Homo sapiens: one gene and its partner. The protein of the gene in region 1 interacts with the protein of each later gene in a pairwise test. Each region holds a gene or a part of one and is shown on either strand. Other genes may lie near its edges.

Region 1 (2,754 bases):
AGGGACTGGAGCAGGCTCGGAAGGTGGTAGCGGGTGGGGGAAGAGAGCAGGGGAGGGGTGTGCCAAATGGGTCTGGGGGGCTTGGCTGCTTTCATCGGACTTGCCTGGGTGAAGGGAATGAGGAGAGGGCAGGCGGGAGAGCTGATGGGAGCCCCTGCAGGTGCTGGCCTACGCCTGCGTGTACAGCTTCTACAGCCAGGACGCAGAGTACATGGATGTGGTGGAGCAGCAGACAGAGAACCTGGAGCTGCACACCAATGCCCTGCAGATCCTCCTGGGTGAGCCACCCCTGCCAGCCAGGCCCTCCTCCTGCCTCCTCCCCTCTGTTGCACAGCCCGGCCCCTCCCAGACAGGTCAAGCGGCACCCTTACCTTCCCTCTCTCCTCTTCCTCTTCATTCTTCATGGCCTTCTCACTGCCTGGCTGTTAAAGCTCAGGTCGAAAGCCTACATTGTAAGGTGCCCAAGGGCGCAGATGTTCGTGGATGTTTCTTGGTTTCTGGTCTTTACCCTGCTCCCCTAGGGAGCTTCATGAGAATGTCTAGAGCTGCACCTGGTGCTTGGTAGACGTTCCATAGGTGTTTGTTGGAGGAAGGAATGGATGAGAATGAGAAGGGAGGGAGCCTCTGTGCCTGCCCCCTCTGCAGAGGAAACCCTGCTGCGGTGCAGAGACCTGGCCTCCTCCCTGCGCCTCCTGCGGGCCGACTGCCTCAGCACGGGCATGGAGCTGCTCCGGCGGATCCAGGAGAGGCTGCTTGCCATCCTGCAGCATTCTGCCCAGGTACTGCCCGGCCCAGACCCCTTCTGCTCCTGCATTCTGCGGGAGTTGAGGTCCTCCTGTCCCAGCACAGCCCCTGCCCTGGGGCGAGTCCAGAAGGAAAGGCAGCAAAGCGGGTGAATGGATGTTAGACCTGGGCGCACATCCCGGCTTTTGGGCCAACCTGCCTGATGCTGCTGGACCCTATCACTTCACCTCCTGGGGATTCCTACAAAATAAAGGGGTTGGCTAGCCCACATCAAGGGTATTTGGTCAGGTGCCTATCAGAATCACTTGGGGAACTTTTCCAGACTGTACTTCCCAGATAGGGATTTGAAATCCTAAGAGTGGGCATCAGGGGATTGGGGTCACTGGAGCAAGGGCTCTCCCAGGCTCTCTCCAGCTCTAATGCACTGATGCTGAGTCTAAACTGTGAGTCCTGTCCTCAGGTTGCTTACTGACTGGTAAGTCACATGGGCAGAAAAGACATAGATTCTGTAAGCTCTTTAAGCACAGGGTCGTGTGCCTCACCTGGTACCCCGTATCCCTGGAGACCATCTGTGGGTGAACTCACAAAGGCAGTGTTTCATGAAGTGCTGTGCTGGGAGGGGAGCAGTCCTAGCAGGAGCTTGGCCCTCCCAGAGCATCAGTGGAAGGAATGCTGGGTCCAAAGGCCCCATGCCCTCTACCTCCTTCTCAAATCCTTCTGTCTGCTCACCAGGATTTCCGGGTTGGTCTTCAGAGTCCATCAGTAGAGGCCTGGGAGGCAAAAGGACCCAACATGCCTGGCAGTCAGTAAGTGGGGTGGGCAGAGCCATGGAGGAGGCAGTGGGACATGGCAGCCTCCTCTGGGCTGAGTGTGGTGGCTCTCCCTAGGCCCCAGGCCTCCTCAGGGCCAGAGGCAGAAGAGGAGGAGGAAGACGATGAGGATGATGTGCCCGAGTGGCAGCAGGATGAGTTTGATGAGGAGCTGGACAATGACAGCTTCTCCTACGATGAGTCTGAGAACCTGGACCAAGAGACTTTCTTCTTTGGTGATGAGGAAGAGGATGAAGATGAGGCCTATGACTGAGGGGGCAGATGCAGGAAACACCTAGAGCAGCCCCAGAGTCACGGGGCTGAGGGGGCGGGAGCTGCCCCTGTCATAGGGAGGGGGATTCCCAGCGTCTGTAGTGCTTCCTGTTTGCTGAATAAAGGTCTCTTTCTCACACACATCTCTGGGAGCAGGCTGACAGCTTCACCAGGGGCCAGCCAAGTTGCCACTGCCCTGGCCTCATATCTACCCACACCCCTCATCTTTATGTTTCCTTTAGACCTCCGGACTCTTCTATCCTCCGAGAAGGCTCAGAGCAGATTCATTTGACTTAAGCTGATAAAGGGAAGTGAAGGTTGGCATGGAAAGGGCCACGTGCAGCCCCAGCCCAGTTCAGAGGAGACAGAGAGAGGGATGGCCACCCACAGGAGCAACCATCCTCCCAACTCTTTTTTTTTTTCTGAGATGGAGTTTCACTTTTGTCCCCCAGGCTGGAGTGCAATGGTGTGATCTCGGCTCACTGCAACCTCTGCCTGATGGGTTCAAGCGATTCTCCTGCCTCAGCCTCCTGAGTAGCTGGGATTACAGGCATGCACCACCATGCCCAGCTAATTTTTATATTTTTAGTAGAGACAGGGTTTCCCACATTGGCCAGGCTGGTCTCGAACTCCTGAGCTCAGGTGATCCGCCCGCCTCAGCCTCTGAAAGTGCTGGGATTACAGGCGTGAGCCACTGTGCCCAGCCCTTCCTCCCAACTCTTTTTTTTTTTTTTTTTTTCTGAGAGGGAGTCTCGCTCTGTTGCCCAGGCTGGAGTGCAGTGGCGTGATCTGGGCTCACTGCAAGCTCCACCTCCCGGGTTCACGCTATTCTCTTGCCTCAGCCTCCTGAGTAGCTGGGACTACAGGCGCTCACCACCTCGCCCGGCTAATTTTTTGCATTTTTAGTAGAGACGGGGTTTCACCGTTT
Region 2 (3,808 bases), on another chromosome or scaffold:
AGACACGGCGCCTTGGGGATGTGGCCGAGGTGCTGTACCAGGCTGAGGACCCTGGTGACGGGCAGTTTGTGGCTGCCAATACCCCGGGAGTGGCAACGGTGGGGCTGGTGGTGCCCTTGCCCGGCCGGGACCTCCTGCTTGTGGCCAGAGGCCTGGCGGGCAAGCTGTCGGCAGGGGTGCCACCCCTGGCCATCCGCCAGCTGGCCGGGTCTCAGCCCTTCTCCAGCGAGGGCCTGGGCCGCCTGGTGGTGGGCGACTTCTCCGACTACAACAACAGCTACGTCGGGGCCTTTGCCGACGCCCGCTCCGCCTACTTCGTGTTCCGCCGCCGCGGGGCCCGGGCCCAGGCTGAGTACCGCTCCTACGTGGCCCGCGTCTGCCTGGGGGACACCAACCTGTACTCCTACGTGGAGGTCCCCCTCGCCTGCCAGGGCCAGGGCCTCATCCAGGCCGCCTTCCTTGCCCCGGGCACCTTGCTAGGGGTGTTTGCCGCGGGCCCAAGGGGCACCCAGGCGGCGCTCTGTGCCTTCCCCATGGTGGAGCTGGGTGCCAGCATGGAGCAGGCCCGGAGACTCTGCTACACGGCGGGCGGCCGGGGCCCCAGCGGCGCAGAGGAAGCCACCGTGGAGTACGGCGTCACGTCGCGCTGCGTCACCCTGCCCCTTGTGAGTGGCATGCCCTTCCATCCCCCCTCTCTGTGGATGGCTGGCATCTTTCAGCACTGGACAGGGGTGCCTGCCCATGGGAAGTGCCAGCCAACCTCTCAGCCAGGGGTCAGCTGAGTCTCCAGGTCTCCTGCCTGCTCTCCACCCATTTCTTTCCACCTTTCTCCCTCTGGATGCTATGAGCTTGCCAGGTGCCCTGGCCCTTCGGCCCTGATTGCTGGGCCTTGGGGTCATCCCAGGGTGCCTGGCTCTCCTCCCGCTGGCAGCCTGGGTACCCCCCCTGACTGCCTCTCTGCTCTCTTCCGGGGGCTGATTCTCCACTTCCTGCCACGTAGGATTCCCCCGAGTCGTACCCCTGTGGCGACGAGCACACCCCCAGCCCCATTGCTGGCCGCCAGCCCCTGGAGGTCCAGCCTCTGCTGAAGCTCGGGCAGCCGGTCAGCGCCGTGGCAGCTCTCCAGGCAGATGGGCACATGATAGCCTTCCTGGGGGACACCCAGGGCCAGCTGTACAAGGTGAGGGCCCGGCCTTGCTGTCCGGCTGGGTGTGCCCCTGGCCACGGAGGCTCAGGAAAGCCCCCAGCAACTTCCACCTCTTAGCCCGCATCCCACGGTTGGGTCAGGGGACTTTGCCACACAGTGACTGCTGGCTGAGCACTGCCCCCTGCAGCCCGGCCTTCACCAGCTGGTGGTGGCTCACGGTGAAGGTGGCTGGGGTGGCTGGGTGAGGTGGGCAGGGTGTGGTGCCTCCTGGTGACCTTCCTGTCTCCCCATAGCTGCCCTCCCACCTGGCAGAACTGTCCCTGGTACACGGGGCCTCACCCAGGGTGCCGCTGCTGCCCCGGTGTCATGGTTCCCTGGAGAGTGTCCTAGGCCTGAGGGTGCTGAGTGGGGGAAGTGATGTGTCCTCCCTCGATGGCCCGGCAGGAAGGGGAACTGGCTCTAAAAAGGAGCCCCCACTAGGAGGAGGGCGTGTCCCTGGAACAGGCAACCTTTGGCCATCTGGCCCAGCCTCGTCCTTGTCCCCCCACTCAGGTCTTTCTCCACGGCTCCCAGGGCCAGGTTTACCACTCCCAGCAAGTGGGGCCTCCAGGCTCAGCCATCAGCCCAGACCTGCTGCTGGACAGCAGTGGCAGTCACCTCTATGTCCTGACTGCCCACCAGGTGAGGGCCATCCTGGGGCTGAAGGGGCCAGCACACGCGGCCCAAGTCTCGTGCCCATTGCCTCTCTGCTCTGCTGCCCCTCCAGGTGGACCGGATACCTGTGGCAGCCTGCCCCCAGTTCCCTGACTGTGCCAGCTGCCTCCAGGCCCAGGACCCGCTGTGTGGCTGGTGTGTCCTCCAGGGCAGGTGAGCACGGGGCCTGTGCCTAGGCTAGGGCCAACGGGTGGTGTGTGCCACGAGGCTGCCCCTGGAAGTAGCCCTAGGCGTGCCGGGAGGCCAACCCTGCCTGTTGGAGAGACTCAGGGCCACCACGGAGGTCACCCATCCTGCCCCATCTCACTGAGCCGTCAATCTGGTTGGCACCCCCCTTTTCCGACACCACCCGGCCTGTGGACTCCTCATCCCAGCAGCCCCAGCCAGGGTCCAGAACCCCACACAGCTGTCCTCCAGCCGGTGCTCCACACGGCAGCCCCTGGAATCCTTTAAGGCAGCCCTGAGTCACTGTGCGTCCCTCAGCCCAGCCGCACCTGCCTCTCAGGGCTGGAGCCCACGCCTTGGCCATGAGGCCCTGCCTGCTTGGCCCCTTTCTCTCTGGACACAGTCCCCTTCACGCCTCCTGCTCATTGCACCCCACTGCACTCCAGCTGGGCCGGCCTCCCCAGGCCCCTGTTGCCGGTCATCCTTGGAGTCTAGGACCCCCACGGTGACCTGATGGACCCCTGCCTGGCAGGTGTACCCGGAAGGGCCAGTGCGGGCGGGCAGGCCAGCTGAACCAGTGGCTGTGGAGTTATGAGGAGGACAGCCACTGCCTGCACATCCAGAGCCTGCTGCCGGGCCACCACCCCCGCCAGGAGCAGGGCCAGGTAAGCCGCCCACCACCACTGGGCCCTCTGGGCAGCATGACCACTGCCTGGAGCATGAACCCCGCCTGCCTCCCGTCCTCCTTCCTCTCCCATGGCCTCTGCTGCCCCCTCTCTCTGGCTACATCTCCCGGTTTCTCCCCGCTGCATCCCAGGTCACTTTGTCTGTCCCCCGGCTGCCCATCCTGGATGCAGATGAATACTTCCATTGTGCGTTCGGGGACTATGACAGCTTGGCTCATGTGGAAGGGCCCCACGTGGCCTGTGTCACCCCTCCCCAAGACCAGGTGCCACTTAACCCTCCAGGCACAGGTGAGTGGCCCATGGGGTAGGGGGCTGGGATGGAGGCTGGAGGGGTAATGAGCCACCTGACCTGTCCTGCCCCCACTGTCCCCTCCCAGACCACGTCACTGTGCCCCTGGCCCTGATGTTCGAGGACGTGACTGTGGCTGCCACCAACTTCTCCTTTTATGACTGCAGTGCCGTCCAGGCCTTGGAGGCGGCTGCCCCGTGAGTCCCTGGGCCTGCCTCCTGGGGTAGGGGTGGCGACCCCAGAGGGCACTCAGTTGAGCAGCCACCCTGCCCCTCTAGGTGTCGCGCTTGCGTGGGCAGCATCTGGCGGTGTCACTGGTGCCCGCAGAGTAGCCACTGCGTGTACGGAGAGCACTGCCCAGAGGGCGAGAGGACCATCTACAGCGCCCAGGAGGTGGGTGGGCCCGAACTTCGGGCAGAGACAGGGCTGTCCCTTCTCCACCCTTCCCAGACCCGCCCAGCAGTAGGCCCTTTGAGTTCTGAAGGGCTGAGGGCTCTTGTTTTCCCAGGTGGACATCCAGGTGCGTGGCCCAGGGGCTTGCCCACAGGTCGAAGGCCTGGCAGGTCCCCACCTGGTGCCTGTGGGCTGGGAGAGCCATTTGGCCCTACGCGTGCGGAACCTTCAACATTTCCGAGTGAGCCATCAGGAGGGAAGGGGACAGGGCAGTGAGGTCTGCCAACAGCGTGTCCACACTCCTGACAGCGTCCTTCCCCAGGGCCTGCCTGCCTCCTTCCACTGCTGGCTGGAGCTGCCTGGAGAACTTCGGGGACTGCCGGCCACCCTGGAGGAGACAGCAGGGGATTCAGG

What was found.
Region 2: the proteins of CUL9 (region 1) and PLXNB3 interact in a two-hybrid assay, tested with the Homo sapiens proteins (one large-scale study listed by IntAct).

What each region holds. Positions count from the first base shown.
Region 1 is NC_000006.12:43,222,619-43,225,372, forward strand, and holds the end of CUL9 (cullin-9), read left to right. Parts: coding exon 1-23; intron 24-160; coding exon 161-278; intron 279-645; coding exon 646-779; intron 780-1,476; coding exon 1,477-1,550; intron 1,551-1,631; coding exon 1,632-1,827; 3' UTR 1,828-1,969; downstream 1,970-2,754. UniProt on the Homo sapiens protein: Core component of a Cul9-RING ubiquitin-protein ligase complex composed of CUL9 and RBX1. The CUL9-RBX1 complex mediates ubiquitination and subsequent degradation of BIRC5 and is required to maintain microtubule dynamics and genome integrity.
Region 2 is NC_000023.11:153,767,249-153,771,056, forward strand, and holds part of PLXNB3 (plexin-B3 isoform 1 precursor), read left to right. Parts: coding exon 1-665; intron 666-1,000; coding exon 1,001-1,180; intron 1,181-1,699; coding exon 1,700-1,828; intron 1,829-1,913; coding exon 1,914-2,014; intron 2,015-2,558; coding exon 2,559-2,691; intron 2,692-2,843; coding exon 2,844-3,000; intron 3,001-3,089; coding exon 3,090-3,198; intron 3,199-3,279; coding exon 3,280-3,394; intron 3,395-3,509; coding exon 3,510-3,635; intron 3,636-3,716; coding exon 3,717-3,808. UniProt on the Homo sapiens protein: Receptor for SEMA5A that plays a role in axon guidance, invasive growth and cell migration. Stimulates neurite outgrowth and mediates Ca(2+)/Mg(2+)-dependent cell aggregation.